Regions from separate parts of the Homo sapiens genome. Here region 1 is linked to region 2. Evidence: fine-mapped expression QTL. A gene starts in region 2. The other region holds a variant in brackets. All regions are shown on one strand. Distances are from middle to middle. Region 1 overlaps ACOT7 (acyl-CoA thioesterase 7). Region 2 holds the start of ICMT (isoprenylcysteine carboxyl methyltransferase).

Evidence for each region.
Region 1: its variant is fine-mapped to the expression of ICMT in whole blood (INTERVAL, PIP above 0.99).

Annotation. Positions count from the first base shown.
Region 1 is chr1:6,263,171-6,265,965 of GRCh38, forward strand. ACOT7 (acyl-CoA thioesterase 7) reads right to left here. Exons shown (of 9, transcript NM_007274.4): 9 at 1,102-1,525. The coding sequence ends at 1,427. Among named protein-coding and RNA genes, the nearest start is that of GPR153, 3.5 kb to the left of the region's middle. The variant G/A (reference allele first, on the strand shown) is at 1,517.
Region 2 is chr1:6,234,633-6,237,427 of GRCh38, forward strand. It overlaps ICMT (isoprenylcysteine carboxyl methyltransferase), which reads right to left and starts at 1,332. Exons shown (of 5, transcript NM_012405.4): 1 at 1,085-1,332; 2 at 254-342. The coding sequence starts at 1,279. It overlaps ICMT-DT (ICMT divergent transcript), which reads left to right and starts at 1,608. Exons shown (of 5, transcript NR_103534.1): 1 at 1,608-1,704; 2 at 2,334-2,518; 3 at 2,613-2,713. RefSeq lists silencers at 1,001-1,060, 1,271-1,600 and an enhancer at 1,565-2,537.

The DNA.
Region 1 (2,795 bases), 29 kb after region 2:
CTTGTCCCTCCCACCTCCAACCCCCTCCCAGACAGGAAATAACCCCGTCAGCCGTGACTGGGGCCCGGGACAGATTCCCAAGCTCTTGGCTGGTGTTTCTGCACATCTGGAGCCGAGTCCTCGCTCTCCAGGGGCCAGAGGGAGCCTTGTGCGAGGCCGCAGCTGTTGACGGGCCAGTCTTCTCCAGGCGGCAGGACAGATGTTGGGGCTTCAGGGACAGACTGAATTGGGAACATTCTCCCAGATGCCACTTCTGGGTGTGCTTGATTGGAGGGCCTCCTTTTCAGCCATGGATGCAGGTGGGGTCCTGGTCCCTGTAGTGGCCTTGGCTGGGCCAGATGCACAGATCAACCCTGCTACACCGATACCCTCACCACACACGTGCTCACAGATATGCAGACAGATGCACACGCACATGCACAGATATGTCAGTGACACGTATGCCCACAGCTTCACACCAACGGCACTGACACACATTCGTGCTGTCCCTCAGACCCCTGCCCTATAAGCCATCCCAGCAGACTCCTGCCTGAGTGGCTGGGGGAGTTTCCACGTCAGGCACAGAGTCCTGGCGCCAGCTGGGGGGCTCCTTCAGACAGGATTTTGGGGTGTCTAGGCAGTTTCTAGCAAGAGGCTGGGTCAGGGTGGGGCTCCCACACGCTGAGCCAGGCCACATTTGGCTCTTCCCACACCATCACCTCGCTGAGTCTTTCCCAGCAGCCCCACCCTGTTCATAGGAAAGCCACACAGGCTCAGAGCCGGCATCCTCTGCAAGCCAGACAGGGGGGTTGTGGGGTGCTGGCACTCCCACCAGGCAGCGTGGCCCTGAGCCCACATCCTCCCAGCATCTGGGCTGCCTATGAGGTCCAGGGAGCCAGGGTGTCTGGGGCCAGGACACCAAACCAGGGACCCACGGGAAATGGGCATTCATAGCCAGCAAGTCACCAGCCGGACACCAATCGGTGTGGCTGTGCCTGAGGTTCTAGGGTACATGCAGGTGCTGGTGCTGGGAGGGCTGAGACTGTCCACGGGAGCCCCAATGTCCCACACCCCCTGGGAAAGCAGCCCCCCCAAGACAAATGACCACCCAGGACACGTGGGTCCAGCCAAGCAGCAGCTTTATTAGTGGTGCTGGGTTCTTCCCATACCCTACAGCGTGCTCGGAAGCATTCCCGAGGGTTTCTGCCCAACGCCTCCCGGCGCTCGGGACAACACTGTGTAGCATTGATACTGGAATGATATAAATAAAGCTTTGGTGTGTAGGTTTGCAGGAGAGAGTACAGGTTAACACTGTGATACGAAAACTTCAGACAACACCAGCTCTCAATGTGAATTGGGTTTTTGGCCAAGGGGGGAACTTCTAAGTGACTGGACACTGGGCCCGTTGCCATGGCTACTCGAGGCACCAGTGGCAGGAGGAGGGAGTCTAGGGCTGAGGCTCCGCGTGGCCCTGTCGCTTCGCCTTCATCTGCAGGTACCGCCCTTTGCCTTCCTCAAAGCGCTTCTTCTCGTCCTC[G/A]GTCTCGGGCTGTGGACCACACACAGAGACAGGCAGGTTAGGGTCACTGCAGAACCAGTGCCGTGGCCTTGTGACCTGGCCTGGGGCCCTGCCCCCCACCCGTGGGATCTGCCCCACCCCTGGTGCATGCTGAGTACCACGCCTCGGCCCCGCTGGCCTCCTGGGACTGCCGGGTAGCCCAGGCATGGGGCTCATGTCCCACCTCGCTGATGGGCCTATTGACTGGGCTGGGTATGTTCAGCCAAGATGCTTTGAGGGGCCGCAGGAGCCACAGGTGGCAGAGCTCCATAGAGGAGACACTAAGGGCATGGCGGGTCAGAAGCAGTCAGTGAAGTGCCGAGCCCTGTGACATCCTCTCACCACCTTTCACAGCAGGTGACCTCCAAGCCCAGGGCCTGTTTGCTACTGGACTTCGGTGGAAAATGCACTTGATAATGAAACATGGGAGCTGAACGGAAGTGGAAAGGAAGAGGGACCCTGCATTCGCTGCACTCCCAGGAAAGCTGCACACAGTCACCACCCCGCAGAGAAGTGGGGAAAGCCAGCTGCACACGGTCACTGCCCCAGAGAGACGTGGGGAAAGCCAGCTGCACACGGTCACCGCCCCGGAGAGAAGTGGGGAAAGCCAGCTGCACACGGCCATTGCCCCAGCGAGAAGTGGGCAGATGCTGTGCTGCCTATGGCCTTGAGAAGGCCCCGCCCCGTACTGGGAGCAATAGGCCTGCTTTGTTGGGAGGGAGCCCTGTCACCACGCTCTGGACCGTACACTCAGGAGGCGGCACCTTGGACCCCAGGGACCCCATCTCATTGGTCTGGGGGCAGAGCCAACTGAACAGGTGGGATTTGGCCCAAGACGGGGTTCTGCCCAGGACGGTCCTGGTTCATGCCTGTCGACGGGCTGCGATTATGAACGGCACCCCCTTTCACTCTGTCTTGTGGCCCCTGGGCAGGTGCCACCCCTGGAGTATTAGGTGGTCACTTCTGATGTCCCATCTGTCCCAACGCCATGTTCTGACTGGCCCCACCCTGGCTGGGAATTCAGGTTTAATGAGCTGTGCTAATTCCTCTGGGACATTTCATCGCAACATTTTGAGGGTGTCTGAAAGCCAAAGAGATGGGGCAGTTGCCCTTCATTTCATCCACAATGACACCAAACTGTACAGCTATTTTTGGGCCTAAGTGTTTCATAGACAAATGGTATATTGGCAAGAGAGAGCGCAGTCAGCCAGAGGATGTAATGTCAAGTTATACCAAATGCCTCCTCCCCTCAGCTCTCTCC
Region 2 (2,795 bases):
CAGCTGCGGATGACAGCACCTTTGGGGGTGCCAGGGAGATCTGTTTCTGCCTGATTCACAATCAACCCACAGGCACGAAATCACAAGGGCTGAAATGTGAGCAACTAGGGGGAAGCCAGGAGACTTCGTTTCCAGAGAACCCTGAACAGCCTTCTGCCGGTCACAGATGAGACAGGGATGAGGAAATGCCGCTACAGACCCTCTGATCTGTCCACCCTCGCCTGAAAACCAGTATTTCCGAAGGAATTCTTACCAGCCAAAGTGACTCCAAGAAGACTGGCTAAAACTTAGCAGCGTGCCGCAGCCGAACACAAACCCCAGGAAACAAGCTCGGATGGCTATCTGAAAGGAACCCAAGAGAAGCTCAGTCATTCACAGTCCTCAGAGTACAGATCTGGGCTGCTGACCTTCCCGGAATAGGCAACCCACAGGCAAGCAGATAGAGCCGATTTGCTGAGGTTGAAAGGGAGAAGTGGGCGACCTGGGTTCAAATTCTGCACCCACCGCTCTCTGGCTGTGTGGCCTCCCAAATTATTTAACCTCTCTGAGCTTGCTTCCCCATCTACAGCCAGGGGATAACAGTACCTACCTTTTAGGACTGCAGTAAGGATTACCCACGTAAAACACTTAAGACTAACTGCTACCTACATTTTAGCTGTCATTATTATTATTATTCGTGATTACTATTCAGGGCTGTAGGAAAACTGCTTAAGCCTAGTTTATGAGGTCAGGGCACCCGGGCCTGTGCGCCCAGCCCCACCCACGTCACTGCGGGGCCTTTGACCTGAGACAGGGCAGCAGGTAGGTCTCTGCACCTTAAGTTACATAAAAGCACTCGCGGGCTCGCTCACTCCACCCCACGCGCACCTGCTGAGCTGCACAAGCTGCAATTTAACAACCCACTCCTCGGGTGCAGGGCGCCCGAGCCCGGAGAGAGAGGGTCCCCTCCTGCGACCTGAACTCGCGGATGAAGAGCGCGCGCGTGGGAGGCCACTGCGGGCCCGGGGAGAAAGGTGCCCACGCGCCGCGCCAAGCGGACCGCCGCCCGCCCCGCCGGCCCCCGCCGGCCCCCGCCGGCCTGCACCTGGTAGCGAGGCGGCCGATAGAGCAGCAGCAGCAGCGCGTTGAGCCCGGCCACGTAGAGCGCCAGCCCGGTGCGGCCCTGCAGGCCGGCGCGCGTGAGCAGCGGCAGCGCGAGCACCGAGGCGCCCAGCAGGAAGGTGGCGAGGCTGAGACGCGCCTCAGAGCCCGGCGGAGCCCGCGCCGCGCAGCCCGCCATGGCGCCGGGCGGCGGACTAGCGGGCGGCGGCGCCGGCTGTAGCCCGGAGAAACGCGCCGGCTGCGCCTGCGCACTGTGCCGCCGATGCCGGCCCGGGAAGGGCAGCTGCCCGCAGCTGCGCGCCGCCTGCCAGTTCTCGCGAGAACTCCGGCCCGCCCTGTTGCTGTCCGGAATTTGGCGGGAGCGCCCCGCCCGCCCGCCCCTCCCCGCCCCTCGGGGACATCCGGGCTCTGAGCCAGACTCTGTGCCGGGCGGGGGCCGGGAAGTGGTGGGAGAAGTCGCCGCCCGCGTCTGTCCAAACTTAGTCCCAAACTCAGGAGGTTCCTGTCCCAAGAAGCAATGTAAAGTTTGAAACGAGCCGAGCGCGGTGGCTCACGCCTGTAATCCCAGCACTTTGGGAGGCCGAGGCTGGCGAATCATTTGAGGTCAGGAGTTCGAGACCAACCTGGGCAACATGGGGAAACGCCGTCTATACTAAAAATACAAAAATTAGCTGGGCGTGGTGGCGCACGCCTTTAACCCCAGCTACTTGGTGAGGCTGAGGCAGGAGAATCGCTTGATCCGGGGAGACGGAGGTTGCAGTGAGCCGAGATTGTGTCACTGCACTCCAGCCTGGGTGACAGAGTGACACTCCATCTCAAAAAAAAAAATTTTGAAACGGCCGCACCCTCGCCGGCCCTGCGTCGTCCCCGAAAACCAGACGCCCTGGGGCGCGGGGCCAAGTGCGGCGACCTCCTGCCCTCCCTCTGCGGCTCCCTGGAAACCGGCCTGGACAACGGCACCTGGGCATCCATGCAACGGGACCACCGCCCGCTTAAATTCCTGTTGTGGAACAAGGCTGGACGGTGATGGGAATGCTCAGGATATGTTAGGTTTTCTTTTTTTTTTGAGACGGAGTCTCGCTCTGTCGCCCAGGCTGGAGTGCAGTGGTGCGATCTCGGCTCACTGCAAGCTCCGCCTCCCGGGTTCACGCCATTCTCCTGTCTCAGCCTCCCGAGTAGCTGGGACTACAGGCGCCCGCCACTGCGCCCGTCTTATTTTTTTGTATTTTTAGTAGAGACGGGGTTTCACCGTGTTAGCCGGGATCCATCTCCTGACTTCGTGATCCGCCCGCTTCGGCCTCCCAAAGTGCTGAGATTACAGACGTGAGCCACCGCGCCCTGCCTATATTAGGTTTTTAAATAGCAGGAGGCAAAGCTTTTCGGTGTGATCCTGACTTCACTTGGGGAAAAAGGGCAGGTATCTGAGCCTGGGAAAATGATCAAGCTATCAGCCAAAATGGTATAACGCCGACTATATATGTACCTTTTTTTTTTCTTTTTTTCTTTTTTAGACACAGGGTCTCACTGTGTTGGCCAGGCTGGAGTGCGGCAGTCTGGAACTCCTGGGCCCAAGTGATCCTCCAATCAGCCTCACAAAGCACTGGAATTACAGGTATGAGCCACCACCCCTGGCCTATCTTTAGGTAGTGGCACTCTTGGTGATTTTTATTGTCTTTATCTGTTTTTGCAGTTTC